Linked DNA regions of Homo sapiens: region 2 is linked to region 1. Evidence: fine-mapped expression QTL. A gene starts in region 1. The other region holds a variant in brackets. All regions are shown on one strand. Distances are between the middles of the regions. Region 1 holds the start of METTL13 (methyltransferase 13, eEF1A N-terminus and K55). Region 2 holds the start of LOC124900413 (a long non-coding RNA gene).

Evidence for each region. PIP is the estimated chance that this variant, and not a neighbour inherited with it, causes the effect.
Region 2: its variant is the best candidate, but not a certain one, in a credible set for the expression of METTL13 in unexposed skin (GTEx, PIP 0.84).

Annotation. Positions count from the first base shown.
Region 1 is chr1:171,775,283-171,790,612 of GRCh38, forward strand. It overlaps METTL13 (methyltransferase 13, eEF1A N-terminus and K55), which reads left to right and starts at 6,378. Exons shown (of 8, transcript NM_015935.5): 1 at 6,378-6,838; 2 at 8,458-9,217; 3 at 10,597-10,796; 4 at 12,453-12,648; 5 at 15,170-15,330. The coding sequence starts at 6,686. RefSeq lists enhancers at 6,067-6,361, 6,191-6,724.
Region 2 is chr1:171,210,127-171,225,456 of GRCh38, forward strand. The region is part of intron 2 of FMO1-AS1 (FMO1 antisense RNA 1); the gene reads right to left. LOC124900413 (a long non-coding RNA gene) reads right to left here and starts at 14,235. Exons shown (of 2, transcript XR_007066731.1): 1 at 13,871-14,235. It overlaps FMO2 (flavin containing dimethylaniline monoxygenase 2), which reads left to right. Exons shown (of 9, transcript NM_001460.5): 9 at 1-2,560. RefSeq lists an enhancer at 9,507-10,068. The variant A/G (reference allele first, on the strand shown) is at 7,505.

The DNA.
Region 1 (15,330 bases):
GATTCCAAATCCCAACCTTAACTTCTGTGCTATATAGTTTCTAGCTAAGGGTTCCCTCTTCTGTCAGCTGTCTTCAGAAATATACCATATTCTCTGAGGACATTTCTCTTTTGAGTCTTCAAACACCAGAGCTTACATGATGAACTGTTTAAAATTTTTTAAAAATTAAAAAAATGAAAAACATCAGAGCTGCTGCTTGGATGAAATTTTGACACGTGGAAATTTTTTTTCTACTGTATGTCAGCAGTGAGGATGAAGATATACTATTCAAAGATGAGATGAATTAAGAACAGTAAAATGTTTTGGCACCATAATTTGTGATTCTTCTTAGGAAAAGGTCATTCGTGCAGCCCCATGGCAAGAAAACAGTTTTAGTTTTAGAGAAGTATTACATACTATAACTTTTTTGTTGGACTAAAGGGAGTTTTGTTTTTCTGGTTTCTTTGAGGACTCTGGATCTGAACGTTAAAAAATCCTCTGGGTGGAGTACTCAAGTGAATTTTATTTATTAAATGCTGTTTTAAAATCCATTCCCTTAGTGGTAGAAAAATATTGTTATGGGCTGAGGACAGAGAGCATCTATAAAAATGGGATACATGAGATGGTCATGGGTTAGAGTGCTAGAGTGTAGGAGAAAAACAAAATGTTTTTCAAGTTTTTCTTTTCCTGCAAAGAAACTGAAGTTTGGAATAAAATTATGAAGAAAACAGTCTAATAGCTTACCCTTGTGGTTTTTCCCAGTATCCAGGCTGTAGAAAACAAAGACAGTCAAAAGGAGGCTTTGTGAGCCCCCTCATATAGGGGTCAAATGTATTCATGCACAGCCTGTTAACCTTGGCATCATTCCTTCATCTCCCCAGTCTTGCAGCTTTCAAAATGTTATTGCCTACTGGCCCCAAAGGCAAACAACTTGCAATGTATAATATGCCCTATATTAATGCCTTGCAGTCCATGCATATGAGGAAACCAATCCATCAACAGACGCCCTTAGTGACAGAGTAGGAAACTACTGCACAAAGAAAATCCTGGGAATCAAATACAATACCAGAGGCAGTCACGGCTCAATTCGCTCAGTCATATATAACTTTTTTTTTTCACTTACTTGTAATCAATTGGAATTTTGCCTTAATTATATATGTATAGGTATATATATTTAAGAAAGCAGTGTGTAATCATCTATGTTGAAACGAATTTGTTAATCTTGTACAAGGCTGGCACATTCACCCAAAGGGATTCTCTGCCAATGTGAAAATTAACTCTGTAGCTCTGAGCCTCTCCTTCCCATGGATTCAGTGTATGAGAAAAATTCTTGGCCAATCACAAGTGCTATACAAACTAAAAAATACTATGATGCACTGGGCATGGTGGCTTACACCTGTAATCCTACCGCTTTGAGAGACTGAGGTGGGAGGATCCCTTGAAGTCAGCAGTTTGAGACCAGCCTGGGCAACATAGGGAGAGCCTGTCTCTACAAAAATATATATTTTTTTAAATTAGCCAGGCATGGAGGCTCGTACCTGTAGTCCCAGCTACTTGGGAGACTGAGGTGGAAGGATCACTTGAGCCCATGAAGTCGAGGCTGCAGTAAGCTGTGACTGCACCACTGCACTCCAGCCTGGGTGACACAGTGAGACCCTGTCTTATATAAACAAACAAACAAACAAATAAATAAATAAATAAGTAGCTATTATCATCATCCCAATCTTAGGAATCCAATATCAGCTTGATAGTCACTTTTCAGGTCAACAATATCGTCAAGAAAAGTGTTGACACTCAGCTAATAAAATGGCAGAATGTTACCCTAGGATGTTATTGTGTCTGCCTTCTATTATCCCAAGATACAGGAGAACATTCATTTTTAAACTTCTCAAATGTGGAAAACAAACCCATTTGCTAAGATGATTTCCAATTTGAAATAGTTTCCAGCATTATATGAGCCACTCCCTGTACACCAAAGAGACATTCCCTTTACTTAATTTTATATCCCACTCGTGAAACATTTTCATGTGTTGGACCTACCAACTCCAACTGGATACCACTGACAGGAAGTGAGAAGGGTATGAGCCCTGGGGTAGGCATGCAGGGTGGGGAGACTGGCTTTTAGCTCTGGCTCTGGTTTTTACTGGAGTGATAACCTCTAAATTCTTTTCTAGCAACAGTTCTACAAATAATACCCCTTTCTCCTTCCCCGTTTCTTTCTACAGACTATTTCTTCAGTCATCCAGAGGCCGATGTAGGAGTCATTTATGAGTCCCTCAGTCTTTTATTCCCCCTATTCAATCAGTCATCAAGTGCCTCAGTCTTTCCTGAGAACATCTCTCAGATCAGGTCTTTCTGTCATGACTCTGCTTCTCTGTTGACTTCCTGTGGCCTGACAGGCTGAAGCTAAATATGTGGAATAGAAGACTCCTCAAAACCTGCCCTTTACCTCAGCCTCTAGTTGTATCTTCTGCTGCTTTCTCCCCACTGTGACCTTCTGCCCCAACCACACATACTCTCTCTCTCTCTTTCTCTCTTCTGTTTATGTTCCGTATTAGTTTCCTATCACTACTGTAACAAATTACCAAAAACTAGTACTATATGCAATACAAATTTATTATCTTACAGTTGGATCAGTCAGAAGTCTGACAAGTCTCAATAAATTAAAATCAAGGTGTCAATAGGGCCGTATTTCTTCTGGAGGCTCTACAGGAGAATTCATTTCTTTTCCTTTTCCAGGTTCTAGAGGTCACCGCCTTTCCTTGGTTCATGGCTGCTTTCCTTCATCTTCAAAGCCAGAAACATTGGGCCAAGCCCTTCTGTCTCTCCCTCTTCTACTTTAAAAGACCCTTGTGGCCCAGCCTGGCCAACATGGTGAGACTACTAAAAATACAAAAATCAGCTGGGTGTGTGCACGCCTGTAATCCGTAGCTACTCAAGAGGCTGAGGCAGGAGAATTGCTTGAACCTGGGAGGCGGAGGTTGCAGTGAGCCAAGATCGTGCCACTGCACTCCAGACTGGGCAACAGAGTAAGACTCCGTCTCAAAAAAAAAAAAAAAAAAAAAGAAAGAAAATGAAAAAGGACCCTGTGATTACATTGAGCTCAGTTAGATAATCTTGCTATGTCAGCTGATTAGCATCCTTAATTGCATCTACAACCTTAATTCTTCTTTGCCTTGTAACCTGTTACCTTCACAGTTTCGGTTCAGGGGATTAGGAGGTAGACATCTTTAGGGGAGCATTATTTTGCCTCTCTCATCCTCTGCCTCCCAAATTGTCAGAGATGCTTTTTATTCCCTCTTTATTATTTTACAATTAATCGTAGTAACAATCAATTGAATATTACCACAATTATGAGAATGTTTCAATTAAGTAAGTTTGACTGTAAATTATATATCCAGAGGTCTGGATTTATATTTTTAGGAAAAAACTCCACAATACTGAATGGCTTTATCTAAATTTAGCTTGCATTTTAAATCATATTTTTAACCACTCTGGGGATCCTAATAAAACACAAAGCATTTTAACATCTTATTGGTTTAAATTAACTAAGTATACTAATGATAACACATACCTATCAATTATATTTCATAGTTAAATCTTGAGAGAAATAAGCTTCAAATAAGTATTTTGAAAGGTTAATGCTAGGGTCTAATGTTACAATATATCTAAAATATTTCTGTGTTAATCTTACAATTTTAGAAAATCTCTAGTATGTTTAAGCTTAAAATGTTCTGGTTGTTATCACTTTTTTAGGCTCACAGAAGGGAGGCAGGCACAGATGGAAAAACGTAAGTTACTTACCCTTTTGGTCTGAAAAACACTGCAAACAGTAATCATACTTTTAGAGCATCAAATACGGGGCTGGAGCCTGGGCTGTGATAGAAATAACTTCGTCTTTTCTAATAACATGACCTTAACAGAACAGACAATGGAGACAGAGGGAAAAGCAGCAGCCAGAAATTCTTGTAAAGGTTCCAGAAGGTGAACCATGCTTTTTGGTTTTTCACCTATGTCATGCTGATATTAAGCAGTCAGATTATATAGTATTTTTGTCCCTTCCTCAGGGAAGCCTTCTCTGGTTACCCCTTAGATCAGTAGAGGTCACAAAGATATACTATCATGGAATGGTATGGTTCTCCTTCACAGCACTTATAACTCCCATTACAGACTATTTTTGTAATTGTTTAATGTGCCCTCCACGTGATTACCATGCTTACCACTGCATCCTTAGCTTCTACCACAGTGATTGGCCCCTATTAGACAATTAAAATATTTGTTGAACTGAATTGAATAAAGCTTTGGGGGGCACAGAGCAGCTGCTATGGTTTTTGTTTGTTTTTGTTGTTGTCGTTTTTGAGAGGGAGTCTCCTTCTGTTGGCCAGGATGGAGTGCGGTGGCGCAATCTCTTGGCTCACTGCAACCTCCGCCTCCCGGGTTCAAGCGATTCTCCTGCCTCAGCCTCCTGAGTAGCTGGGACCACAGGCACACACAACCACGCTCGGCTAATTTTTGTATTTTTATTAGAGACATGGTTTCACCATGTTGGCCAGGCTGATCTCAAACTCCTGATCTCAAGTGATCCGCCCGCCTCGGCCTACCAAAGTGGTAGGATTACAGGCGTGAGCCACCGCGCCTGGCTGCTATGCTGTTTTGCTTCTTTGGTATCGTGTAGCACATTCAGTACAAGTGATGTCCTCCGCTCTCAATAAGTGCTTCCTAAAGAACTCACATTTCACCCATTCAGAACCTTGCATGGTGTAGTAGCTGAAGTTACTACTTCAAGGACTCCTTCTCTTTATCTTGGGTAGAGAGGAACAATGTGAACTCAGCAAAGGGATCATGAAAACAGATTTTCTCTTATGTTACTTGTAGAAAGCTTTTAGATTTATCATTGAAAATTGCGAATTTTGAACCATATCCATTTTGACTTAATTGTATTTTAAAACAGTGGTTCTCAAAAAAGTGTGGTTCCGGGACCAACATCATCAGCATCGTGGGAACTTGTTAGAAACACAAATCCTTGGGCCTCACCACTGAACTAATGACTTAGAACAGGGGTTGGACTGGGGAATTCTGTGTTTTAACAAGTCCTCCAGGTGATTCTGACGCATGCCAGTTTGAGAATCACTTTTTTAAACCAATGTTTAAGTCCAATCTAACCTACTTAACTATTAACAGTCTACCTGGCTATCTACCTGTGGTAGTGTAGTATGTAACAGCCCACAGCACACATGCTCAATTCCAAGCCTATCTGCTCTCCGCAATCAGTATATTCCTCCTGCAATTTATCATGGTATGAAAGGCCCAGTGATACACATATTTGGTCATTTTCAAATAGTGCCTGCCAGCATAGTGGCTCACACCAGTCATCCCAGCACTTTGGTAGGGTGAGGCGAGATGATCATTTGAGCTCAGGAGTTTGAGAACAGCCCGGACAACATGGCGAAACCCCATTTCTACAAAAAAAAAAAAAAAATTAGCCAGCGGTAGTGGCGTGCTACTTGGGAGGCTGAGGTGGGAGGATCCCCTGACCCCTGGAAAGTGGAGACTGCAGTGAGCCATGACTGCACCACTGCACTCCAGTCTGGGCGACAGAGACAGACCCTGTCTGAAAAAAAAGTGCCCTTCACAGAAGCTTCCTCAGGGTATTAGCATGAGCATGTGAAAGTACAGTATGTTTATCAAACACATAAAATAAGCAGTTATAAATAACGTCAGAATAACACAAGGAGGCCAATTATCAAAATGAAAGGCTAGTTTTGCATGCTGTGCTTTGCGGAGAGAAGGAAGAGGGAGTTTTCATGTTATTACACTTTTGATAGCAGAATCCTATATTTTGGTGCAGAGGTGGCAAAATAAGGCGGGGGGTGCTGGTGCGCAGAAGCTGACAAGGTTAGAATGTGCAGCGTTTTTACGACGGACTGGCTTTACTCATTTCCTGCCTCACTTCTCTCCTATCTGTATAGGTTTTTCTTTTCGTCCTCCTCTACCAGTACGCTCCCGCCTGCCGCGCTCCGCCCTTGTGCGGCGCACGATCGGAGTCAGTGATTAAGCCGGCTCCAAGACAAAGCGGAGGCCGAGCCCAGGAAGCAAGCGCGCTCTCCGCCCCGCCTGGAGGGAGGGCCCAACCACAGCACAGCCGCGCTCACTCCTCACCCGGACGTGACCTAGTTCTCACAGAGGCCCGGCCTCTTCCGCCACAACTCCGGCCCGCGGTCCCGCCCCGTTCCGTGAATGGTCGGCCGGCCTCAGGTCAAAAAAGCGTTTAGGTGTCTGCGACGGAGCCTCCGGAGAAAGGCAAGCACGTCGCAGCCAATGAGGTGATAGAAACGCAAAGCAGCGACCAATGACTAGCTGAGTTGGGCTGGGCCGGCCGACGAATCACGAGGCTTCGCACCCGGATATGGTTATGGGCTCGGAAATCTAGTTCGGGAAAAGTGTGAGGGGCTCTTCACGTGGGGAAGGAACAGCAGGCGCGGAGGAGGGGGCAAGCGTGTGTGAGATTCAGTGGTCCATGCGTGCGTTTGTCGTGTAAGGGTCATTCCTGGGGTTTGGAGTGGGGGAACAAATCAATGTGGCTGTTTTTCCGTGGAAAGAATTCCCACTGCAGTGTCCCGGAGCCTGCGTGTGGTGGGCAAGCTCCTCAAATGGTATCTCACAGGGAATAGGGGAGTCTTGAAAACGCAGCTTCGGCAGTAGGAACATGAACCTCTTACCTAAAAGTTCCAGGGAGTTTGGCTCCGTTGACTATTGGGAGAAGTTCTTCCAGCAGCGAGGAAAGAAAGCTTTCGAGTGGTATGGAACCTACCTGGAACTGTGCGGGGTGCTACATAAATATATCAAGCCCAGGGAAAAGGTGAGGAGCGCGGGTTGGTAGCCCTTCGTACGTGCTCCGGAAGGTGGGAACTGGTAACAGGAATCTTGCACTTGGTGGACAGTGACAGGCGGGAGGACCCTAGTTGGACGCATATTTCAGCATTTCCTGCATTGTTCCTGCTAAAAGACAAACTAGAATATTCTTTCAGGCCGGGCGCAGTGGCTCACACCTGTAATCCGAACACTTTGGGAGACCGAGGTGGGAGGATCGCTTGAGCCCTGGAGTTAAAGACCAGCCTGGGGAACATGAGACCTCGTCTCTACAAAAAATGAAAAAATTAGCCGGGCGTGGTGGCGCGCATCTGTATTTCCAGCTACTCGGGAGGCTTAGGCGGGAGGATCGCTTGAGCCCAGGAGGTCGAGGCTGCAGTGAGCCATGATCACGCCACTGCACTCCAGCCTGGGTGACAGAGTGAGACCCTGTCTAAAAAAAAAAACATTTCTTTAAAGGTTTTCAGATAATAGACCTCCCACCCCAGCTCATTCTTGGATTAATAACCCTACTTGAAGAGTGACTTCCCATCTTGAAAGTATGTTCTTCTGTCACTGTGCATTCCTGTGCAACCTGCAGCAGGTGTGACTTTGTGTATGAATTTGTTTTTCAAATAGTCGTTGAGTGCGCCCCAAGTTTCAGGCACTGCTCAGTCCTTAAACTATAAGAGCATTAAGACGTAAACCCTGCACATGTTCCAGAAGTGAAACGTGATAAGTACAACAATGGGTTTGGTATAGGTGAGATTGTACTGGAGGTAGGGAAGGAGGAAGGTAGAAAACTTAACATTTGTGGGGAAGCTTTATGTGCCAAGCCTTATGTTGGGTGCTGTGTATGTGCATGTGCAATCTTTGAATTCTCATCATAAATTCAGGTGAGTGGCCATGCATACATTTTACAGATGAGGAAACTGAGGCCCCGAGAGCCACTTTTTTTTTTTTTTTTGCCCAAGATCATGTCCAGGTGGTCATGTGGGGATTTAAACTCAGGCCTGTCTGGCTCCAGAGCATATGCACATCTCTTTGTACCATGCTTTTCCAAAGATGGCAATATCAGAATTTCTAAGTTTGAATGGGAGATTGCTCCCTGGAGAGGGAGACAACAATCTGAATTTTAAGTTCGGCTTCAGAAGATAGCCAAATATCATGAGATGGAATCCGTGATGGAAGTAAGATTTGAATCCTCACAAAGTGTACTTTATTGTCTAAAGGAGCCAAAGGCATGAGTAGAGTGAGGAAATAGGGTTATTCCTGGCCTAGGATTTCAACTGTAACTCTATATTTGGATTCTCTGACTTCCTATTAATTCCTGAGTAATAAGTGCATGATTTAGAGAAAAGAACAGTTATGATTAATTTGTTTCTGCAACACAAAGCCCATTCTCATATAACCTGTATTGTAGCTGAATGTGGTTTTCACTAGCAAGTATATGTGGTGTTTCAAGATAGAGTCTAGCATCAACTCTACAATGTCGCTCTTTCTCTGGCAGTAGCGTCTCCACCTTCTGAAAATGTGACTCAGCCAAGGTGAGACTTGATTCCTTGAAGTACCTGAAGTACAGTCCTTTGCTTTGATTACCTCCCTCTTGTCTGTGAATTTTTTCTCCAGGTGCTGGTGATTGGGTGTGGCAACTCAGAACTGAGTGAGCAACTGTATGATGTGGGCTATCGGGATATAGTGAACATCGACATCAGTGAGGTTGTCATCAAGCAAATGAAGGAATGTAATGCCACCCGACGGCCCCAGATGAGCTTCTTGAAGATGGACATGACGCAGATGGAGTTTCCTGATGCCTCGTTCCAGGTGGTGTTGGACAAGGGCACCCTGGATGCTGTCCTGACAGATGAGGAAGAGAAGACCTTACAACAGGTGGACAGGATGCTGGCTGAGGTTGGCCGTGTCCTGCAGGTGGGCGGTCGCTATCTCTGCATCTCCCTGGCTCAGGCTCACATCCTGAAGAAAGCAGTGGGCCACTTCTCCCGGGAGGGGTGGATGGTGAGGGTGCACCAAGTGGCCAACAGCCAGGACCAGGTGTTGGAAGCAGAGCCTCAGTTCTCCTTGCCTGTCTTTGCCTTCATCATGACCAAGTTCAGGCCAGTCCCTGGCTCTGCCCTTCAGATCTTTGAGCTGTGTGCTCAGGAGCAGCGCAAGCCTGTGCGGCTGGAGAGTGCCGAGCGGCTGGCCGAGGCGGTGCAGGAGCGACAGCAGTATGCCTGGCTGTGCAGCCAGCTGCGCCGCAAGGCCAGGCTGGGGAGTGTGTCTCTGGACTTGTGCGATGGGGACACGGGGGAGCCACGCTACACCCTCCACGTGGTGGACAGCCCCACTGTGAAACCATCGCGGGACAATCATTTTGCGATTTTCATCAGTGAGTTGGGATTGCTCCCTCTCTTCCCTGGAGGGGCTGGCTTACAGGGGCTGGGGCTTGGGCTGGGGCTGGGGCTGAGGCTGGGCTGGGGCTTTGGTGGGATTCTGGACTGTTTTTTGTCTTGCAGGGGTTTGTACTTCCAGAGGATTAGACTACCCAAGGCATGATGAAAGGAGAGTAATAGCTCTCTAGCAACCTACTTGGAGTTGAGACCTATTCCTTTTCATCTGCCATTGCAAAGGCTTGATGAAGTGTGAGAATGGGGTTGGTAGGGAAGAGAGAGAATAGAGATAAATTTAGGAGGTCACATATGATATAGAGATGCTAGTTACTTTGTAGCATGGAGTAATGGAAGTAATGCTGGACTAGCAAGTCTAAGACATAGGTTCTAGTCCCAGCTGTAGCCTGTGAGCTGCAGGACCTGGGGAAGTTGCTGTGCTTCTCTGCAAAATTTGGAGAGGCAGCATAGGGTAGCAGCTAAAAAAGTGAGCTCTGGAACCAGACTGTTTGGGTTTCAGTTTTGGCTCAGTCATTTCCTGATGGTGTGACATTAGACAGGTTACTTTTCTTTCTCTGCCTTGATGGGATTGTAACTCTGGTGTAGTTGTGAGAAGTATAAAAGCTCTTAGAAATGGTACCTGGCCTTGGAAGTGCTGTGTAAATGTTAGCCATTATTACTGAAAGCAGTAAGTTATATCAGATTTATCTTAATAAGGATAAAAAAGATAGTAGGAGGAAGTGCTTTCAAAAGTGGAACATTGTAGACAAATGCAAAGTGTTTATGGTCTTGGTGTTACGGTAATTTGTTTCCTGGTGACTGAGCTAGTTTTTCAAGTATTCTATAATTCTGTCTGTCCATGTGTGGAAATAAATAGTGCAGTGAATACAAGCGTGGGTAGAGTCTGGGGCTAGACTGCCTGGGTTTGAGTCCCAGCTTCACCATTTACTTATTGTGCGAAGTTGGGCAAATAGTGTAACTTCTGTTTCTCAGTTTCCTCATATGTAAAAATGGGAATAATACTACTACCTGCATCTTGGACTGTTGGAGGATTCCATTAATATATATTTGTCAACAGCTTGGAGTCATGCCTGGCATGGCTTATTTGTGTTGGCATTACTGCTGTTTTTCTTGTGGTAGGTGTCTGCCTCCTTCCCCTACGGACATGCCCACACTTCTTCTCCACCCTTGGTCCTGCCTTATGTCTGATGGGCTGCTTTGCCCTAGATGTTGTGAACTAGAGAATTGTTAGCTCCTCAGTGGGTCACAGTTGGGGAAGATGCTGGTCTTGGACAGGGACTGGCTCCCTGCCGTTTGGGCCATATTGGTTGTGGGCTTGATCACTTTCCAGGACTCCCTGTAACCAAGTTCTTTTTTCTAGTCCCTCAGGGCCGGGAGACCGAGTGGCTCTTTGGCATGGATGAGGGCCGGAAACAGCTGGCGGCCAGTGCTGGCTTCAGGAGGTTGATTACAGTGGCCCTTCACCGAGGTCAGCAGTATGAAAGCATGGACCACATCCAAGCTGAGCTGTCGGCTAGAGTCATGGAGCTGGCCCCAGCTGGGATGCCCACCCAGCAGCAGGTAACAAAGCTTTCGTACGGCTTTCATGGGTCTCTGAAGTCATGTTAGCAGCCAGGGAGGCAGAGGGAGCCTTGGCAGGAGCTAGGACTAGAGTCTGTGACTCTTCATCTAATCCTGGAGGGGTATCAGCAGCTAAGGGTTAAATGGCAGGGAAACTGTCCTTTGCCCCAGGCAATGAGAGGAAAGTGAGCACAGTAGCGTCTGTGTCTGGGGGAGCCTCTCAGAGTCCATAGACATGGCAGGATGGAAATGCTCTACTCATTGCGGGCTTCAGTTCTTCCTAATTTGAGTTGCTCTGACTGTGGATTTCTCCTTCCACACTGGACTTTCTTGGTCATTTTGCTTCTTAGAACTATCATTATCTGAGGGTATAAATGGAAGAGGGCCAAAACAGCTCAGCACAGTTATCCAGGTATTCACATTGCTGGTCAGGTGTTTTACTGGGAAGGAAACCGAAGGTTTTTGCCTAAGTGGTGATATGGTATTATCAGTTAACACCAACTGTCTTGTGCTATCCTGGTCACCATGGGTAACGAACAAGTGATTTTACTAAAAGAACTTCATGATGAGGAGTTGATCCTTTTTTTTCTTTTTTGAGATAGGGTCTTGCTCTGTTGCCCAGGCTGGACTGGAGTTCAGTGGTGTGATCACGGCTCACTGCAGCCTCAGCCTCAACCTCCTGGGTTCAAACCATCCTCCCACCTCAGCCTTTGGTAGTAGCTGGGACTATAGGTGCAAGCCACCATACCTGGCTAGTTTTTTTTTTACATTTTTTGTAGAGACAGGGTCTCCCTATGTTGCCCAAGCTTTGATCCTTCTTGATAGGTGGGAAAGCAAAGGTATCTAGAGGCTTGGTGCAAATAGTAACAGATCTGAAAAAAAAGAACCCAGGCTCCTGGGTTCCTGGCCTGTGGTTTTGCCCACTAGGCTGACTCGTGTTTACAGATGAATGTAAGTTTGATTCTTCCTGGCCAACTTTGGGGTTGATGACCCCTATTTCAAGGAAGCCCAGATCCTCTGAGGAGCTTCATTTGTGGCCTCTCACCAGTGCCTGAGTCTGCAGGGTCAGGAGATATTGGTGATTATTAACTAGTCTTATAGGTCTTTAAAAAAAGAAATAAAGATAGGGGGAAGGAGTGGGAAAGTTTAGGGGGAAAGTATATTTTTCTCCTAAGGTTCAGAAAAGTGGGGGAAAAATAGATGAGAATAATCAGGGGAAAGGAATATCTCTCTAGATTTGGAGTGGTTGTTTCTCCCATGGATTTTGTTATCTTTATTCTTGTGTAGATTCCTTCTCATAATCACAGCCCCTTCCTGAGGGTTCCCTCTAGCTTTTGTTATCCTGGACTATTGAGAGTTCTTTTAGGGGTTACTGATGAGAAAAACCCCTAAAAGAACTTGGGGAGAATCAGCTGCATCTCACTAGTTGTTTGGGAGATCTTTATGTGTCCAGTTGATTTTCAAAAGATGAATTAAACCTTTGAGATCAGTTCAAAGGCTCCAGAAAAGTACTTTAATAGAATGGCAAATCTGTGGAGTAGTTGTTGTCTAGAACCGTGGTATGGGGATATATACACACAAAAGGGAAGGGGTTATAATTTCTCTTATTTCTTAAATGAGCTGCTGTTTTGACCACATCTCTGGTTGTACCTTCAGGTCCCCTTTCTGTCTGTGGGTGGGGACATTGGGGTCCGGACCGTTCAGCACCAAGACTGCAGCCCCTTGAGCGGTGACTATGTCATTGAGGATGTGCAAGGGGATGACAAGCGATACTTCCGTCGACTGATCTTCCTCAGCAACAGGAATGTGGTGCAGTCCGAAGCCAGGTTGCTGAAGGATGTGTCTCACAAAGGTGAGGTGTCATAGGCACAGTGGTGGGACCCAAGTGGCCGTGGCATGGACTAGATTTCTTGGGAGCTTGGCCGAGATGTAGGATGGACCTGGGTGTCTGTAGGTTCTTAACCATCTGGACTCTTAGGGTGTGAATAGCTATAAGCAGAGTACATTCTGTTCTTGAGCAGAGCCTGGCTCTGAAGTGATAGGGGACGTGAGTAGTGAAACCAAATACAGTGATAATCACATTAATGTCTTCGGTTTAAAGGCATCTGTTTTGCAGGTGCTCCATATACATCTGTGTATTGTTTCAATAGGCCTCTGTGAGGTGAGCCAGAACTATGGAAGTTGCAGGTGAGCCCTGCCCTCCATAGTGTGACTCACCTGTTTCAGAGGGTTTTGGATTGGCGGGTGACTTAGAGGCCTTCTAGTATACCACTGTTCAGTAAAACTGCCTGTGATGAAGGAGATGTTTAGTTCCTGAGTTTCTAATGTGGTCGCGACTAGCCATATGTAGTGCTGAGCGTTTGGAATGTGGCTAGTGTAACTGAGGAACTGAATTTTAATTTTCTTTAATTCTAATTAATTTACATTTATATTTCAACAGCCATAGGGGGCTAGTGGCTAGTATTGGACAGTGTAGATCTAAACCATCTCTTCTAGGATCCCTTTAAGTGGTCTCCCAGCTGTCACTCAGAAACTCCCCCGATGGGGAATCAATAGTTTGTTTTACCTGTGTTAGTTTGTATTTTAAAAGTGATACTTGTTCATTGAAATCACTTCAAAAGTCAAATATAGACCGCGAAAAGTGAATGCCCCTCACCTCTCCGTCTCCAGTGCATCTTCCCTGTCTGAGGCGCAGAGATTCAAGGATGGAAGCTGAAATGGCTCTCCTGATTCCCAGTTGTTCCCTTTGCCTGACTGGCCTGCCCTCATAGCAAGGCCATCTGGGAGGAGGGTGGAGACAGAGAATTCAGATGCTTGAGGTCATAGACTGGCTCTGAGCCTAGAATCAAGTTACCCAGCGAAATGGTATTTTTCTTTAGGGGTTTTCCCTGGCCAAGAGCACCCAAGATTGTTGGGTTTCTGCCCTATTGTTTGGTCACTGTGGCTGCAGGTTGGTCCAGTTTCATCTCACTAAAATCTCAGTAAAATTGCTTAAAAGAACATTTTGCCCCTTTCAGTTTGGGTTTCAGGTTTTTTCACCATTGTCATGTTCCTTGATTTCTTGGTAGCACTTTGTTCTCATGGAAAGAACGTTCTCCCTCATGGGAGTATTGGTGAGCAAGAAGGAGAGCATATTAAAAAGTGATTTAATATATCTGAAAAGCACCCCGACTCCACTCATCAGCACTTTTTACTGCTGGGGAATGCAGCTGATCCCTATGAAGACACAGCCATCCGTTTAGTATGATACCCTGGAGCAGGGAAGGGAGTGGTGAGAGGGAAAGTGGAGTGGCTTTTTAGGATTTATTTCCTTTTTTGAATACTTGTGATTTCCTTCTTCAGCAAAGGTTGGTAGTGCTACCTGTGTGGCATAGCAGAAAGATGATAGGTGATGGAGACAGGCAGTCCGAGGATCAACTCCTATCTCTACCATCTGCTGATTCCCTATTTACTTAACACTTCAGTGGCTTAGTGTGTTCATGTGCCAAGAATTGGAATGATAAGGTTGTTAGAAGAGCTAAAAAAATAAAAGTTACGGTATAGTAATTGGCACATAGCAGGTGATTAGTAACTTTACCTTTCTTTAAAAGACTTTATGAGTAATCTTTTCTCCTGTTAGTGGCCTTACATTTCTTAGACGGGAGGTACCAGGGCTCCTCAGTTGAGTTTTCCCAGGTTTTTGAGTGTGCATTTGCCATTTCCTTTTCCAGCTTCCTTGTATCCATTGTATATGTTAAATGTTTAATGACTATGTCTTTGTGGGGCGGGGTAGGGGGGGCACATCCTAATTTATAGTGTTTATCAGTTCTCTAGTATAAATACCACCACTGTATTTGTTTGTTTTACGTTGCTTATAAAGGAATACCTGAGACTGGATAATTTGTAAAGAAAAGACTTTTATTTTGGCTTATGGTTCTGCAGACTGTACAAGAAGCATGGTACCAACTTCTGCATTTGGTGAGGCTTCAGGAAGCTTACAATTATCACAGAAGGTGAAGGGAGACCAGGTACATCACATAGCAAGAGAGGGAGCAAAAGAGATGCCAGGCTTTTTTCAACAACAGCTCTAGAGTGAGAACTCACTCAATACCATGGGGAAGGCACCCAGCCATTCATGAGGGATCTGCCCCCGTGACCAGCATGGTGGCTCCGACATTGGGGATCACATTTCAACGTGAGATTTGTAGGGGACAAACATCCAGATGATTTCACTACGGCCAGTTTCAAGCTATCAACATGATGTCAACCAGTTTGCAAAATTTTAACGATTGGGTCTTTTGAGTGTTCAAGCCATCTGGAGCACACTGCTGCCAGTAACCCTTGCTTCCTGAGGACTAGTGTACTAAGCATAGGGCTTCATATCTCTTGTTTAGCCCAGAAGAAGCGGAAAAAGGACAGGAAGAAGCAGCGGCCTGCTGATGCGGAGGACCTCCCTGCAGCCCCGGGGCAGTCCATTGATAAGAGTTACCTGTGTTGTGAACACCACAAAGCCATGATCGCTGGCCTTGCCCTGCTGAGAAACCCAGAGCTACTC
Region 2 (15,330 bases), 570 kb before region 1:
AGAAAACAGCATTCTTTTTGCCAAATATGACCAAATTACTTTTATTTATAATTTTTGATTTATATTTCAGCTAGATCTAAAAAGCATCTGAAGGAATTTACAATGAAAGATACCTATGCAATAACATTTAGGATAATCTTTGACATTTTGGAAAAATAAGAATTGAGGAAAAAAAGTGTATCTTTCAAGTAGATGCAAAGCATTATAATGACTGACACTTGTATCTAACTCCAGTCTTACAGATAACTAAGGCAAAAAGCTAAATAAACAATATGTAACCTCTAACATTTGGTAAAAGGAAGTATACTGGTCTGTTAGCAGAGACAAACTTTTTTTAGAATTGAAGTCTGAAACAAACAAAAGCAATTCAATGTCAATAGACATTAAGCAACATAATAGACAAACATCTCCTAAGGGAACATTTGTTACAGCTGCTCCTTCCCTGAACTGTGCTTTGGAAGATAAGCTCTGTCCTGAGTCCAAACCAAGCCCTTCCAAGAGAGAACAAAGGTCAGAGATGTTGAAGATTCCAGCAAATTTCTCCTCTTATTTCTACCAAGCCTTTGTGAACATTGCTCTTCATTTTGGCCTGTACTTCTCCCTCAGGGACGTAGAACAATGGAATGTCAGTCAGTCTCTGTAGTTAAAACTTTTTCTTTAAAATTCAATTAAGGTACTTCTCCCTCAGGGACGTAGAACAATGGAATGTCAGTCAGTCTCTGTAGTTAAAACTTTTTCTTTAAAATTCAATTAAGGTACTTCTCCCTCAGGGACGTAGAACAATGGAATGTCAGTCAGTCTCTGTAGTTAAAACTTTTTCTTTAAAATTCAATTAAGTTACACCAGAATTTACAGGCAAGATTTTTTTTTTCATTGCTCCCATAAGCAAATTTGTTTTAAAATAATTGTAAATGAGGTATATACTTAGTTCTTGGTTAAAAAATATATTGCTTTGTTAAGTATTAAAGATTATTTGTAAGTCATTGTATTAATAATACTAATAAAATTTATCAAGCCTTTATAGCAAGGGTCAGTGAATTACCACTGCCTGTGGGCCAAATCTAGCTCACTATCTGTTTTTGTAAATAAAATTTTATAATAGTACACAGCCACACTCATTCATTTATTTTCTGTGGTTGCTTTCAAGCTACAATTGTAGAGTTGGGTAGTCGCAACAGAATCTCTGTGGCCCACAAGGCTAAAATATTTACATTCTCACCCATTACAGAAAAAGTTTGATAATTCCTGCTTTATAATATGTAAGGCATTGTCCCATTTTGCATAACTTGCCTTATTTCATCATTATCACTACCCATTTAGTAGCTATGGTTGTTATCTTACTTCTACAGTGGAAGAGATTGAAAAGCATTTGTCAGGTTAATGCTAAATCAGTGCGGAAATATAGCTCCACTAGGAAAATATTATTAAATTTATATCCCTAAAATTTTTAGAAATCTCTCAAAATCTTTCCAAATGTTCTGGTATCTTTGAAAAATGTAAATAGTTTATTTATAGAGAACCCTACCTCTGAGGTTGACTCAAAGGTTAAAGAAGGCTCATCAGTCTATCCTTCTGCCTCCATATATCCTGAACATCAAACTATCCCAGGAAAACCATCTAGAGTAGTTTGTTTCAAAATATTAGCCACAGACCACCTACATCACAATAACTCAGGGAGCTTATAGAAGTGAAGATTCCTGAATATAAACATAGTAATAATTCAACCTACTGAATGGAAATCTCTGCTGAAATCCACAGTTTTCATAAGCTCCCCAGATGATTCCTGTGTACATTAAATCTAGAAACCATTAGTTTGAGATCTCTCAAAAATAAAAATAAAAATTGCTTTCAGAGAGTAGCCCATGAAATTTCCCATTCTTCAAGGACAAATTCCTTCTGTTCAGCCTTGGTCCTCCAACTGCAGTTTACAATTTTTGTTCTTCTCCTGTAAAGAATGTCAATGGTTATCACCTTCAATAGTTTCAATATGTCCCCCAAAGTTATGTGTTTGAAACTTGCAATAGTATTGGGAGATGGGGCCTAATGAGGTGATTAGGTGAAGTCTCTGCCCTCATGAAAAGATTAATCCCATTATCTCAGGAGTGTGTTGGTTATAAAAGCAAGTTTGGCTCCCTCTTTTCCTCACACACTCTTTTTCCCTTCTGCCTTCACCTTTGCCGTGGGTGGACACAGCAAGAAGGCCCTCATCAGATGCTGGCCCCTTGGTCTTGAATTTCCTAGCCTCTACAACTAAGCCAAATAAATTTCTGTTTATTATAAATAACCCAGTCTCAGATATTCTGTTACAGAAACACAAAATGGACTAAGACACCACCCTTTTCCAAAATCTCTCCTTGTGATGGCTCCCTTTACTAACCTTTCTTTTAGCTATTCCCTTTATGATAGTTTCTTAATTTTTTCTATCAAAAGCTAAATATGGCACACTTGTTCTTTACAGAAAAATAAAGATATTTTAAACAAAATACTAGGGCCATGGTATGTAATAAAATTTGAAACAATAATTTCAAATAATAAAGATTGAAAATGCTTAACCCAGAAAGAATCCAGCATCCACATTATAATGAGGATTAAAAGGGAAGCCTCTTTTGTACCATCAGTCTTTCATCCGGGAAGCTGCTGCTCCTGACCTGCAACTTTGGCTGTTTCCAAGGAGGCAGAATGTGTTAACAGGACTCACTTTCTTGCCCATTATGCCCTGTGACTAAATGGATTAATGAAGCTAAGTACAAGGCTTCTAAGACTAGATTCTACTTAATCCAGGTCACATGTCAAAATGAGACTAAATATGCAAGGATTTTATTAAGGAAAATACCCGTATAAAGGAAAATAAGGAGAGAGTATGCTAAGGTTTGAGTGTGTCCCCCAAAAGTCCATGAGTTGGAAACTTAATTCCTCCATGCAGCAGTGTTGGGAGGTAGAACCTAGTGAGAGGTGTTTGGGTCAGGGAGGTTCCAGCATCACGAAGGAATTCAGACAGCCATCTCTTTCCTCTTCCACATGCCCACTTCCTCTTTCACTTCTCTGCCATGTCATAGTGCAGATCAAGACATTCACCAGAGGCCAATTAAATGACAGTTCCTTAATCTTAAACTTCCCAGCCTTCAGAACTATAAGAAATACATTTCTTTTCTTTGTAAAAGAAAATAAATTTATTTTGCTTTATATATTCTGCTATAGTAACTGAAAGAAGACTAAAATAAAGGAGTGAAAAGCTGGAAGAGTCATCAGATTGCAACACAAGTCTGACACTGAGTGAAAAAGAGAGGGGAGAAAGGTTGGGTAGAAACATCTTAGACTGCTGTGCAGTCTAAGGAAGATTCATCAGGACCATTGAGAAGTCTTCAAGCCACCAAAGGTGTCCCAAGTCTCTCTAACATACTTACCCACTGGCTGAAAACAGCTCATAGGAAAGCGAGACTTAGCACAAGCACCGAAATGTATCTCAAGTACAGCAGCTGAAGAGCTTGGTCAATTATACTGCCTGTACTAACTATATTAGAGATCCATGAGGCACATTCTCATGGCTGCCACAGGTTTATCACCTCCTTTGTCATTCAAAACTCTCTAATTGATTGTAACCTATCTTCCCAGCCTTACCTCCCACTGCTATGCCCACCATGCTTGCTTTCCGGCCAAACCATGTGACTTACTATTCTACAGAGATGGCGGCACTTGGTCTTGCTTTGTGCTGTTGCAGGATTTTTCCATAGTTCAACTAAAGTCGGGGTTCTTTGTCCCACAGCCATGAAAGTTCAGGCTCACAGACAATTTGAATGGTGAGTAAGACAGGGCTTTATTGAGTAAAAAGGAAGAATTAAAAGGAAACAGGGATTCTCCGCAAGGCCGGAGTCCCTTGCTAGAGTGCTTCCTGCCCTGGAGTTCAAACTCCAGTTTCCACACGGGAAGAGGAGGGGCCAGGCTCCTCCCCACTACAAATGGTGCAAATTTTTGAGGCTCCACCCCAGTGCGCAGGTGGGTTGGAGTTTTTCCAGGGACCTTCTCCCACTTGGCTGTCTCATTCCCCCCTCTAAAGAAGTACATCTAACTGCCCTTAAAATAAGGATAAGGACAAAGACAAATCTTAACAGCTTCCTGCTGACAGGTGGCACTGTTTTGGGGAAACGGCAGTCAGAGCTTCCTCAGAGGCCTATTTAAGGGTTCCTGGCAAAAGGGGCCATTGTCAGAGGCTCTGGTTGCATGACCATTTGGAGTTCGATGGCCTGAAGGCAAGGACAAACAAACCGGGTTATTAGAAAACATATATCAAAGCAAAACAAAGGGAGGGACAAAGACAGCTCAAAAATTCTAAGGTCTTTTTCCAGTTTGCACAGGGAGAGGGAGGCCAAAAGCCTGACTGGTTAAAAAAAAATTGTTTAAAGTAAAAAACTTCACCTTTTTGCCGGAATGTTGGGCTTCTGGGTTTCCTTCCCCTGAGCCCAATCCTAAGCCAACCAGTTTAAGGTTTGGGAAATTAACTCTTTCCAGTTTGGAGGATGCATCTGATGTGAGTGTCTCATAGTATGAAGATGCAACTACCTATTTGTGAAGAGAGAACTGAGGGGGAAAAAGGAAAAAAGAAGGCATTTTTTAAAGGAGTCCCAGGGGTTCAGGATGCATTCGAAAGAGGTACAGACTGAAGATGAATCGCTACCCATCTAGAAAGAGGAGAGCAGACATCTCTGGTTCCCTTCTTTTCCTAGCAGATACATGGGATACATGAGGGAAAGAGGGAAGAGTGTCCTCTTTTCATCTTCCATCCTTGCATCCCCAAGTTCCAGTGACCTTGGCAGGTGCTGCCATGGGTTTTAAAGTGGCTTGCACCCATGAAGCAGGGGGGGTCGGCAGGGGAGTCATCCACTTTTACCCACGTATGCCGTTTCCCCTGCTGTCAGTAGTCTTGGAGTTCCCTAGATCGCATTTATGCTATGGATATTAATATAGCCTTTATCCATGAAACAGGAAGCTTGGGCTTGGCTTAATCAGCAGGAATGAGCCACACTCACCTGTGCTGTGCCTTTTAACCTCTGTTGCTATCTGCCTCTGGATTCCTCAGATCCAGTTTTCTTCCTAGGGCTTTGACCCAACACTTGGAACTGAGTCTGGGACAAGAATGTATCTTGGGGGGTTGCATGGACTCCTTATCATAAGCCAAATGCTAAAGTGAGGCTGTGGAATTAAGTCCTCCAACAAGGGAGAGGAAAGGATGTCTTGTGACACACCCAGATAACTGGTAGCTGTAGTTACGCTTGCCGGGATTTCGGTGCATGATGCTCAGCTTTGGTTAGCTCCCTTGGTCTCACTGTCCCCAAAAGAAAACCTCCAAGTCTGGGGCATCCTATTTATTCCCATCACCTGGCAGGATTTGCAGGATAATTGCTCGGAACTAGACTATTGATCCAGATTTCTATGTTACCCATCCCTTTTGTTCTTTCTGAGCTGCAGCCAGGGATTGCTGGTTGGTTCACAGGAGCAAGCAGGGTTAGTCTAAAATATAGGCAAAAACTCAAAAACAACTATTGAGTTTAGAATTTAGTGACAAATATATGATAAGTTTTGGAACGTAATTTCTGTCTCTCCAGTCCTCATTTTTGTTAAGAAACAAATAATCATAGGAATTAGTTGTTTAAATAGACTTTAGTCTTATACTTGGCCTGATTATTTGCATAAAGTCCAGCAAGAATAATTATTTTTACATAGGCCTTTTAGATTGGCTTTGATGGAAGTCTGTTCCACAAGGAGTCTCAGATAAGACCTTTTAAAACTGAGCCCATCCATGGGTTTGTATCCTTAAACACCTGTGAGTTGGGTGATCCTCTCCTCTTAAGTTCCCAAGATAAACTTGGAGCTCCTAGACCTGTTAGAAAGTGATATTCTTTACTGACCACAGGTCAGGAACCCTGTACAGGGACTATGTAGACAAGGGTATGAGGCCAGTTTCCTCACTGGGCTTTTATTGGCTCTGTCAGTTGAGATTAACTCCTTAAGAGGAAGCATACCCTTCCAGTCAAAGCCTTGGTAAAATAACCACTTTCTCCAATTGTGTTCTGTTGCAAAAGAAAAATGGATTCTTATTGCATGGATGCAAACAACTATATTGCCATAAGTTAAGAATACTCACAGATAGGTTCTAAATTCTGGAGGAACTGGGCAGAGAGAGAGAAACAAACATGCTCCAAATTTTGATAATAGGAGTACACCTTGCTTAATTATTAAAGGCCATAAATAGCTCAAAATGAGTTTCCTTGACTGAAAAACAAAACAAGGGTCATCAATATTCCAAGCAAAAGTCAAAAAGGTTGCTTCAGCTTTTTCAGTTCAGTCCATTTAGTTAACTCTTGTTTTGCTTGATATTTGTGAATATTTCAGCTCTTTATGAGTCCTGTACATTTTCTTTTATTCCAATGTTACAATCTCTAAAGTTATCAGAAATCTGTTTTTGAGAGCACCTGTTAAAGTTCTATAGCTTGTTATAAACAATCTTTTGAAAAGGATTAAAACAAGACAACAATTGTCTGTGAATTACAAAATGTCCAGGGTAGTTACAGTTAGAAACAAAATCGACAAAGAAGTTTGGTTATCTCCATGGTTTACAATAACATCACAACCTTATTATGATTGATAGCATACACTTAGACATTAGAATTTTAGAAATCCCATACAATATTGGAACATATATTAGCATTATTTACCAAGATATAACCTAAAGAAGACTGAACATCATTTTGGCAATACCATGTACCTAAACATGTCAAATAATCCTGTTTACTTCTCTTTTCTGGACATTCTAGGGGCCCTCTGGACTATCCAAAGAGTTAGGTGTCAGGAAAGACCATTTGGAAACTGAAGTTTGATTTTGGGAAGCCTATTAAATAAGTTTAAAGCACTTGATATTATGAAATAGAATTCCAGGTTACCATAAATTATTTATTTTGCCAAAATGGTACTGAGAAATTTTAAAGAAGCAAAAACTTTTATAACCCTTTGAATTTAGTCAATATGTTCACATAGACAACCTCTTCTGCAAGATTAACTTCCACAATGCTTCTATCACTTGTTTGAACGTTCAACTTTTCCTACCTAACTCAAAACAATCCTTTAATCCAAGGCAAAAGTTTACATTTCCATGCCTTCTTATAACCTTTTACTAAAAAACACATTTTACCGTTCTTAGGCATCTTGCGTGTAAATCTATTTTTAGATTACGTGATATAATGGTAACTCCTGGCAATTTTTAACTTTAATGTAAAACCTGCTAAATTGCTTTAATTGTGTGGTAAGTGCTGCAAAGGTTTGCCTTCTTAATCTAGGGTGTGTTTAGTTCCATATATTCCCAGGCCCTACCAATTGTGAAGCAGGCAAGACAGACAGGTCTCAAAACCCAAAAAACAGTTTGTAACCTCAAAAAACTTAGCAAACCTTGCATCTGACCTGCATTTTACCGTAGTCTTTACGGCTGTTTTTATTTCTTAAAGATTAAAGTCAA[A/G]TGAACTGAAAGGTACCAGAAATTTTATCTTTCCTTTAAAAAATATTAGATTCAAGTGTTTGTCCTTCTTTGGACCAGATTCATTAGAGCCGTTTTTACAGACATCACACACAGTACACAAGCAGACAAGCACAAGAAAACCCAGTCACTGGGTGGGTACCTTTAAGAGACAAGGCTAGGAAAACATGCAGACATCAAACCAGAGAGGGCTCATCCCCTAAGGCAGGATTGCTAAGCAAAGCCTTGCCAAGCGGTGGTTACCAGCCATGCCCTCAGGATGTAAAACAAAATGGAGGCTTGATTTCACAATAAAAGCTTTGCAGAAAACATAAACGGTGATAGGTGTGGGGCCTGACCTAGTAAAAAACGTCTTCTAAAAGAAAAAAAAAATTAAAGGTTAACTGCTGATGGAGTGGGGCAGAGAAAGAAAAAAAGTTTTAAAATGCCTGGGAAAGACCCTCTTATTCTTATACAACTGGTTCCTCCACCAGGAGAAAAGCTTAATTACTGTCCAATGGAGTAAAGCCCCTTAGCAGGGGAAGGTGAAGGCTTTGGTGGTGCATGGTGGAAAACAACAGCCAGCTGGCTGTACAGGACACTTGGACCGTGCGTTCCAGCCCCAGAAGGGAGGGGAGAGCAGCGGGGAGGTGCTGCTTGCTGGTCAGTCCCAAAAAAGGAAGGAAAAGGCCTGGGAGCAATAGATGATTGGGGAATGGTTTCCCCTACCCTCAGAAATTTGAGGATGAAAAGGCTTAGAATGAACGTTGAGAGGTTTTGAGTCCCCAGTTCACTTGCCACTTCTCAAGCCCCACGTTGGGTGCCAAAAATGTTGTAGGACTCTTCCTTAGTTCAGCTAAAGATGGGGTTCTTTGTCCCACAGCCACAAAAGTTCAGGCTCTCAAACAATTTGAATGGTGAGTAAGACAGGGTTTTATTGGGTGAAAAGAAAGAAAAAAAGGAAACAGGGACTCTCTACAAGGCCAGAGTCCCCTGCTAGAGTGCTTCCCACCTGGTCATTCGAATTCCAGGTTCCACACAGGAAGAGGAGGGGCCAGGCTCCTCCCCACTGCAAATGGTGCAAATATTTGAGGCTCCATCCCTGTGTGCATGCTGGTTGGAGTTTTTTCTGGGGACCTCCTCCCAGCTGGCTGTCTCAATGCTACTCCACTATTGCCTCCCCAGCCTCTAATAGTTAAAATTCCATCCTTCCTACAATGTCTAGGTCAAATGTTGTTCTCCCTCAGGCTTTCCTGAGTCCCTCCAGCCAAAAATAGTCTCCTCTGCTTCCGCATTACCAAACCATTTTGTTTTAACTCTGCAATAATGTTTACCCTCTTGCCTTCTACTATTAGGTTACTTTTGTAGTCTCTAGAAAAGTTACCTCACCTTTCTGGGACTGAGTTTTCTCATCTCAGCATATAATAGAGGGCAGATAATGACTAAAGTCTATCAAATCCAATATTCTATAATCCTAATTCATCCACTGTCAATGCTTTTATGATGGTTAAATTGAATGTCATTTTATCATGGTAACTGACACTAATGGCAAGATGACAATTTTGTACCTAATAGTCACATTGCCACTCTTCAGCATTGTAAAAAGTAAAGTAGAGGTTCCTCTTCAAAGACTTTCCTCCTTATCTAATTAGGAATAAATAGTAACTTCCCTTAAAAGCAAAATTTATTCAAAGACCTATACTAACATTCTTAAATATCTGCTAGCCATAATAAAGAAATCAATGTACTCTATGTTCTTAGCTCTTACAATTTAGCCTAAATATTTGCCTTGGCATGCTTACACTATTCCAAGCAAGCATTAGGTCATAGCCTGTTTCTCTTCCTTATTTGAAGGTGTTTTTACTTTTCTCAACATTCCACAAGTTATTTCCCCCTTCCTTTGTTCTCCTCTGCCTTTGCCTCTTTTAAAAAGTTGTAAGTTGCTAGCCAATTGGGACAAATACAGAATGTGAGGTCCCATTCCAGCCAATGGAAACTGAACACAGCAGTAAGGTGGACACATCAAGTTATAAATGACCCTGCCTCCTTTGTTTGGTGTACTGTCATGGCAAAACTGCTGGCAAGTGTACCCTTTCTGCAGAAGGCATAAAAATGGCCTTGCTGAGGAAATTAAATTTATGTTCAAGTGCTATTTCTTTACAGCACCAAGGAACAAACATTTCAAATAATTTGGTGGCCTGTACGGGGATACATTCTCATATGGAGGCAGTCTCCAGTCCTGTCTCATGAAGAAGCATGGTCCTCTGCCTCTCTGCAGTAGCCTCAAGGATAAGGACTCGAGACCCACCCAGTGTGATGAATAAACCCAGACTCTCAGTAACACACACACACACACACACACACAAAGAAAAGAAAAAAAGAAAGACAACAACAACAATAAAAACTGGCTGGCAACCTGGAGTAAAGCATCCTCACATATCACATGAACCAAGAAACTCTGTACACAGACAAGAAAAAAAAAAAAAAAAACAGAAAAACCAGTAAAGTATTTCCTTAGTAGTCAAAACCAAAGAAAAAGCCACAAGGCAGTAAAGCATTCCTTAATTAAGACATTCCGAAAAAAGAGAAACCACAATGGGGGGTAAAGCATTCCTTAGTCAGGACTAAGGAAAGAAAGCCTCGGGGGTGGGGAGGGGGTGGTGGTGAAGTATTCCTTAGTCAAGATGTCTTAGAAGTTAAAAAGAAGTAAGAAATCTCCATTAAGAAAGAAGTTGAACCTCAGAAAGAAGTGAAAAATCCCCATGGGGGGTTGAACCTCAAAAAGAAGTAAGAAATTCCCACTGAGAGGAGGTTGAACCTCAAAAAAAAGTAAGAAATCCCCATAGATAAGAAGTTGAATCTCAAAAAGAAGTGAGAAATCGCCATTGGTGAGGGGATTGAACTTCACAAAAACCTCTGGTAGTAAAAAAAATTATATATACGTATATATTCAAAATTCTCCTTTTCCCTCTTCTCCGGGAAAGAAAAGGCTAAGCTCCACTCCCGCCGGTTGCTCCCCTAGGGGAAGGGAAAGGAGAAAGACAGCAAAAACAGCAAGTGCGACACCAGACAGCCAGGCACACCAAGAGTTAAGCCCCTCTCCCCAGCCAGGCTCTATGTGAAAAAGAGGGCAGGGACTGATGCCAGAAGGAGAGTGTGGGGGACTGCCTGGGGCCAGGACTGCAGCTGTGCAAATCCCACCCAGCCCAAGAAACTAAGTGTAGGAAGAAAGGGGAAAAAAAAGTAAAAAGGGAAATCGGAAAACAAACAAACAAACAAAAACAGGAGAAACAGATGGCAATGTATGCGCAGGGGTGGGGCCCGTGCCGTGGCCTGACCCTGCCGTTGGTGGGAGCGAGAGAACTCAGGAGGGGAAAAGGAAACGGGATGACAGAGAGAGAGAGAGAAACAGAGTGCAAATGAGAGAGAGATAAATAGATGGAAAGAGTAAGTAAGAGAGAAACTGGAAGAGACAGAAATCAAAGAAAGACACAGAAGGTGAAACTACGAAAACAAAGAGTGTAAAAGGAAGGCAGAAAGTTAAGGCATGTTGAAGATTGTGAAAGTTGTAAGAAAAGTTATGAAAAGGAATTTATGCCAGAAATATTGTATAATTTAAAAAGTAAGTAGGCCTCCTGAATGTAAAATTATTTGAAAAACAGTTTATTTACAAGGTATGTAAGAAAAATAAAATATATTTTTAATAACAGGATTATAAGGAGGCATAAAAATATAGGTTTTTACATACATTAAAAAGTTAAAAATATATATTTTGTTTTAAAAGTTTAAGCAAGTTTTAAAATGTTAATTGTAAAGGAAATTCTGTGTGTAAACATAATGGCTAAAGTTAAAGAGGTATCATCCAGTTTTTCTGTGAACTGGACATTAAAATAAAAGCACAATAGATTTTTCTTAAAGCACTAACCTGCTCTTTAGCAAAAATTATAAACAGTTAAAAAGAGTCTATAAAAGTCTTACCTTATAGTCAGACATCAAAAATAGATTAAATATCTACAAGATTTTATTAAAATTAAGCTTAACATTAATAGCACATTAATATAAAAAATTTAACTTATCTGGTATAAAATCATACAAAAACACTGTCAAATATAAAACGGTGTTTAGCTTTCTTAAGGCCCAAAAGTGGCTGGGTAAGTCACAAGGCTCCTCATCCCCAAGGCCACAGTGCACAGGGGCGGTGAAGGCCACAAGAAGGCCAAGACCTTAAGAGAGGGCAAGGCCACAGCATCCCCTGGGCAGTGCTGAGCAGAGATGGAGCAGGAGGTGTCACCATGAGGCCTCAAGCCCCAGGATATGCAGCAGAAATTACACACTTAATTTATCTTCCACTTTCCCTTCCCTCAGAACTGAAAGTATTTTAGCACAAGTACCATTCCTAGAATTTCCAGTACACCAGCACCAGCCTGAAAACCACATTCTCATCAAAAGATAGAAAAAAACTCAAGCCAGCCTGGGAAGGATCCTATTTTATGCTGTTAACCACTGAGACTGCCGTCCACACAGCTGAGAAAGAATGGACCCACCATACTCGAGTCAAGAAAACATCTTCCTCTTCAGAATCATGTTACTGTACTAAGATCAAGCCCTACTAAGTTAAAGTTAAAGAAAGCTTAATTTTCATATACCTTCTATATTGCTTCCTTTCCTTTCCTTATTCTGTTACTAGCTTCTTTGTTATTAATGTAACTAAGTCTGACTCACCTCAGACCATTACCTTTAATGCTTGCTCTGTCATACCTTGTGGAGATGTAAAAGATCAATGACAGCTAGCCTTTTCACACAAATATTTATGACCCGGCTCTCTACTGGACACAGTTACCCCTAGCACTCATCATTGTGATCAGCTGCAGCCAAGACACTGATTTTCTGCTCCTGCAGCCTGGCAACCTTGTAGAAAATAGGACTATGTCCTTTAAACTACTTAGAAGCAAAGTTGGACTTCCACAAAAAAGGTTTGTGCAGATCTAAAACCCCTCATCTATTTCACTAAAAGGACTACCCCTTCTAACTGGCAGCCTTATCTATGTAACCCTGTCCTTCTCTTTATCACCACCTCCACCTTGACTAACTCTAGGCCAGCCCTTAGTTGCTTCTATGGTATGAAGATTGACATAAATGGAAAAGACCCCTAAGTATTTTTAAAGTATGCATGATTCTCCCATCTTCCCCTTCTTCAGTAGCCTCAGTTCTAGATCCCACACCAGTTGCTCCTACATCTAATAATAAAACTAAGCTGTCTGTTGTAAAAATAAGAGATCTAAGACAGACCTTAGCCATCAAGACAAAAATATCAAGATGCAAATGCCTGGCTGGAATGAATTAAATATTCCGTTCGCACTTTAAATAAAAGCGATTATTATGCTTGTACACATGGTAGGCCAGAGGCCCAGATTGTCCCCTTTCCACTTGGATGGTCTCCTTGTCAACCAGATATGGAGTGTATGGTGGCTCTCTTTCAGAATCCCATGGCTTAGGATAATACATCATGCCGAGCTCTCTATCTGCTATTTCCTGAAATTCAACACCCTACGGGTCAGCCCCCAAGGGCAATCCAGCTTCCATCTCAGATGGCCAAGTTTACTTCATGCCTCTCATAGCAAGAGGAAAATTTGGTGTTCCTTGGAAGCATAAAAAAAATGCAAGGAGCTCAAGTCTTTCCAAGAGCTTGATTATCAGTCTATGCTTAGCCATCCCCAAGCAAATGTATAGTAGTACTGTAGAAGACCTTTATTAGACACTCTGCCAAATAATTAGAACAGTACTTGTGCTCTAATCCAATTCGCTATCCCTTTCACCGTAGCAATTCATCAATCTAAAAAGGTAAAAACAAAACACCTCAGGCCAAAGGAAACTCCTTATGAGTCCTTTAATCCTCAGGTTTACATAAATGCCATTAAAGTCCTGTGAGAAGTGCCAAATAAGTTTAAAGCACAAAATCAATTAGCTGCAGAATTTAAATCCACATTGTTCTAGTAAGTAACTATAAAAAAAAGTAGGCTAAATAAACTATATCTATTACAATCAGCAACGATTCATAAATTACACTGAGGACACCATCAAAGAGATACCTAAGCAATTAGGACCTATCAGCCAGATGGCCTAGAAAAATAAAATAACTTTAAATATAATATTAGCAGAAAAAGAAGATGTTTGTGTCATACTTAAAATTTAATGTTATACCTTTGTTCCTAAAAATACTGCCCCTGACAGAATTATAACAAAAGTGCTACAAGAATTAAAAACCCTATCCAATAAACTTGCCAAAAATAATAAAATAAATAACCCTTTTTCTAAAGTAATAAAACATTTGTTCAGTAGATAAAAAGAAATTTTAACTTCAATTCTCACCTCATTTGCTGTTGTTATTGGTGTACTTATTCTTGTAGGCTGTTATATTATTCCCTACCGTCGAAGTTTTACACAAAAACCTGTCTCTGCCATGCTTACAGAGTTAACTCCTAACTCTCCTCCACCTTATTCAGAAAAATTACTTCTCTTAAAAGGACAAACAAAGCAATTAAGTCAAAACATATTAAACAAGTTTGAAGAAGAATTATGAAATAAGAGGAGGAATTGTAAAAAGTAAAGTAGAAGTTCCTCTGGAAAGACTTGTCTCCCCATTTAATTAGGAATAAATAGTAACTTCCCTTAAAAGCAAAATTTATTGAAAGACCTATAGTAACATTCTTAACTATCTGCTAGCCATAATAAAGAAATCAATGTACTTTATGTTCTTAGCTCTTACAATTTAGCCTAAATATTTGCCTTGGCGTGCTCATACTAGTCCAAGCAAGCATTAGGTCATAGCCTGTTTCTCTTCCTTATTTGAAGGTGTTTTTACTTTTCTCAGCATTCTACAAGTTACTTCCTCCTTCCTTTGTTCTCCTCTGCTTTTGCCTCTTTTAAAGTGTTCTAAGTTGCTAGCCAATCGGGACAAATACAGAATGTGAGGTCCTGTTCTAGCCAATGGAAACCGGACACAGCAGTAAGGTGGTAAGGTGGACGCATCAAGTTATAAATGACCCTGTCTCCTTTGTTCTGTGTACTCTCATGGCAAAACTGCTGGTGAGTGTACCCTTTCTGCAGAAAGTATAGAAATGGCCTTGCTGAGGAAATTGAATTTATGTTCAAGTGCTATTTCTTTACAGCACCAAGGAACAGGCATTTCAAAGAGCATGGTGCTATTAAAATAAAAACTTTAGACAAGTTAAGTTTAACATAATTTATTTGAGCAAACAAATGATTCATGAATTGGGCATTACCCTGAACCAGTAAAGGTTCAGAAGACTCTACCTGGCAATGTGGGCAGTCCATATTTATAGATAGAAAAAGGAAGTGACATAACAAAATAGCCTGATTTGTTACAGTTTAGCACTTGCTTTATTTGGACATGTCTGAGCAGTTTGCAGCCTGTGATTGGCCAAAAGCTCAGCTGCTACAGTTAACTGAGACTCAGTTGCTTGTTACAAGAATGTAGTCTCAAGGTAGGTTTATATATATATATATATATATATATATATATATATATATATATATAGGTTTATATACATATATAATGTATATATATAAAACATACATATAACATATATTATGCTTTATTTATATATATTAGGTTATAGTTTGCTTCATTTAGAGACAGCATTAGGCCAAAGTTTAATTTAACAATTCCCCTCTTTTATCAGCCTTTGAATTTTGAGAAATTGACCATAACCTAGGTCCAATTTTTTTCACCATCATAATGGACTTGTTTGGTCTCAGTATAAAATTCACAATTCACAATGTCGAATTTGTTGGATTATTCTTTATGT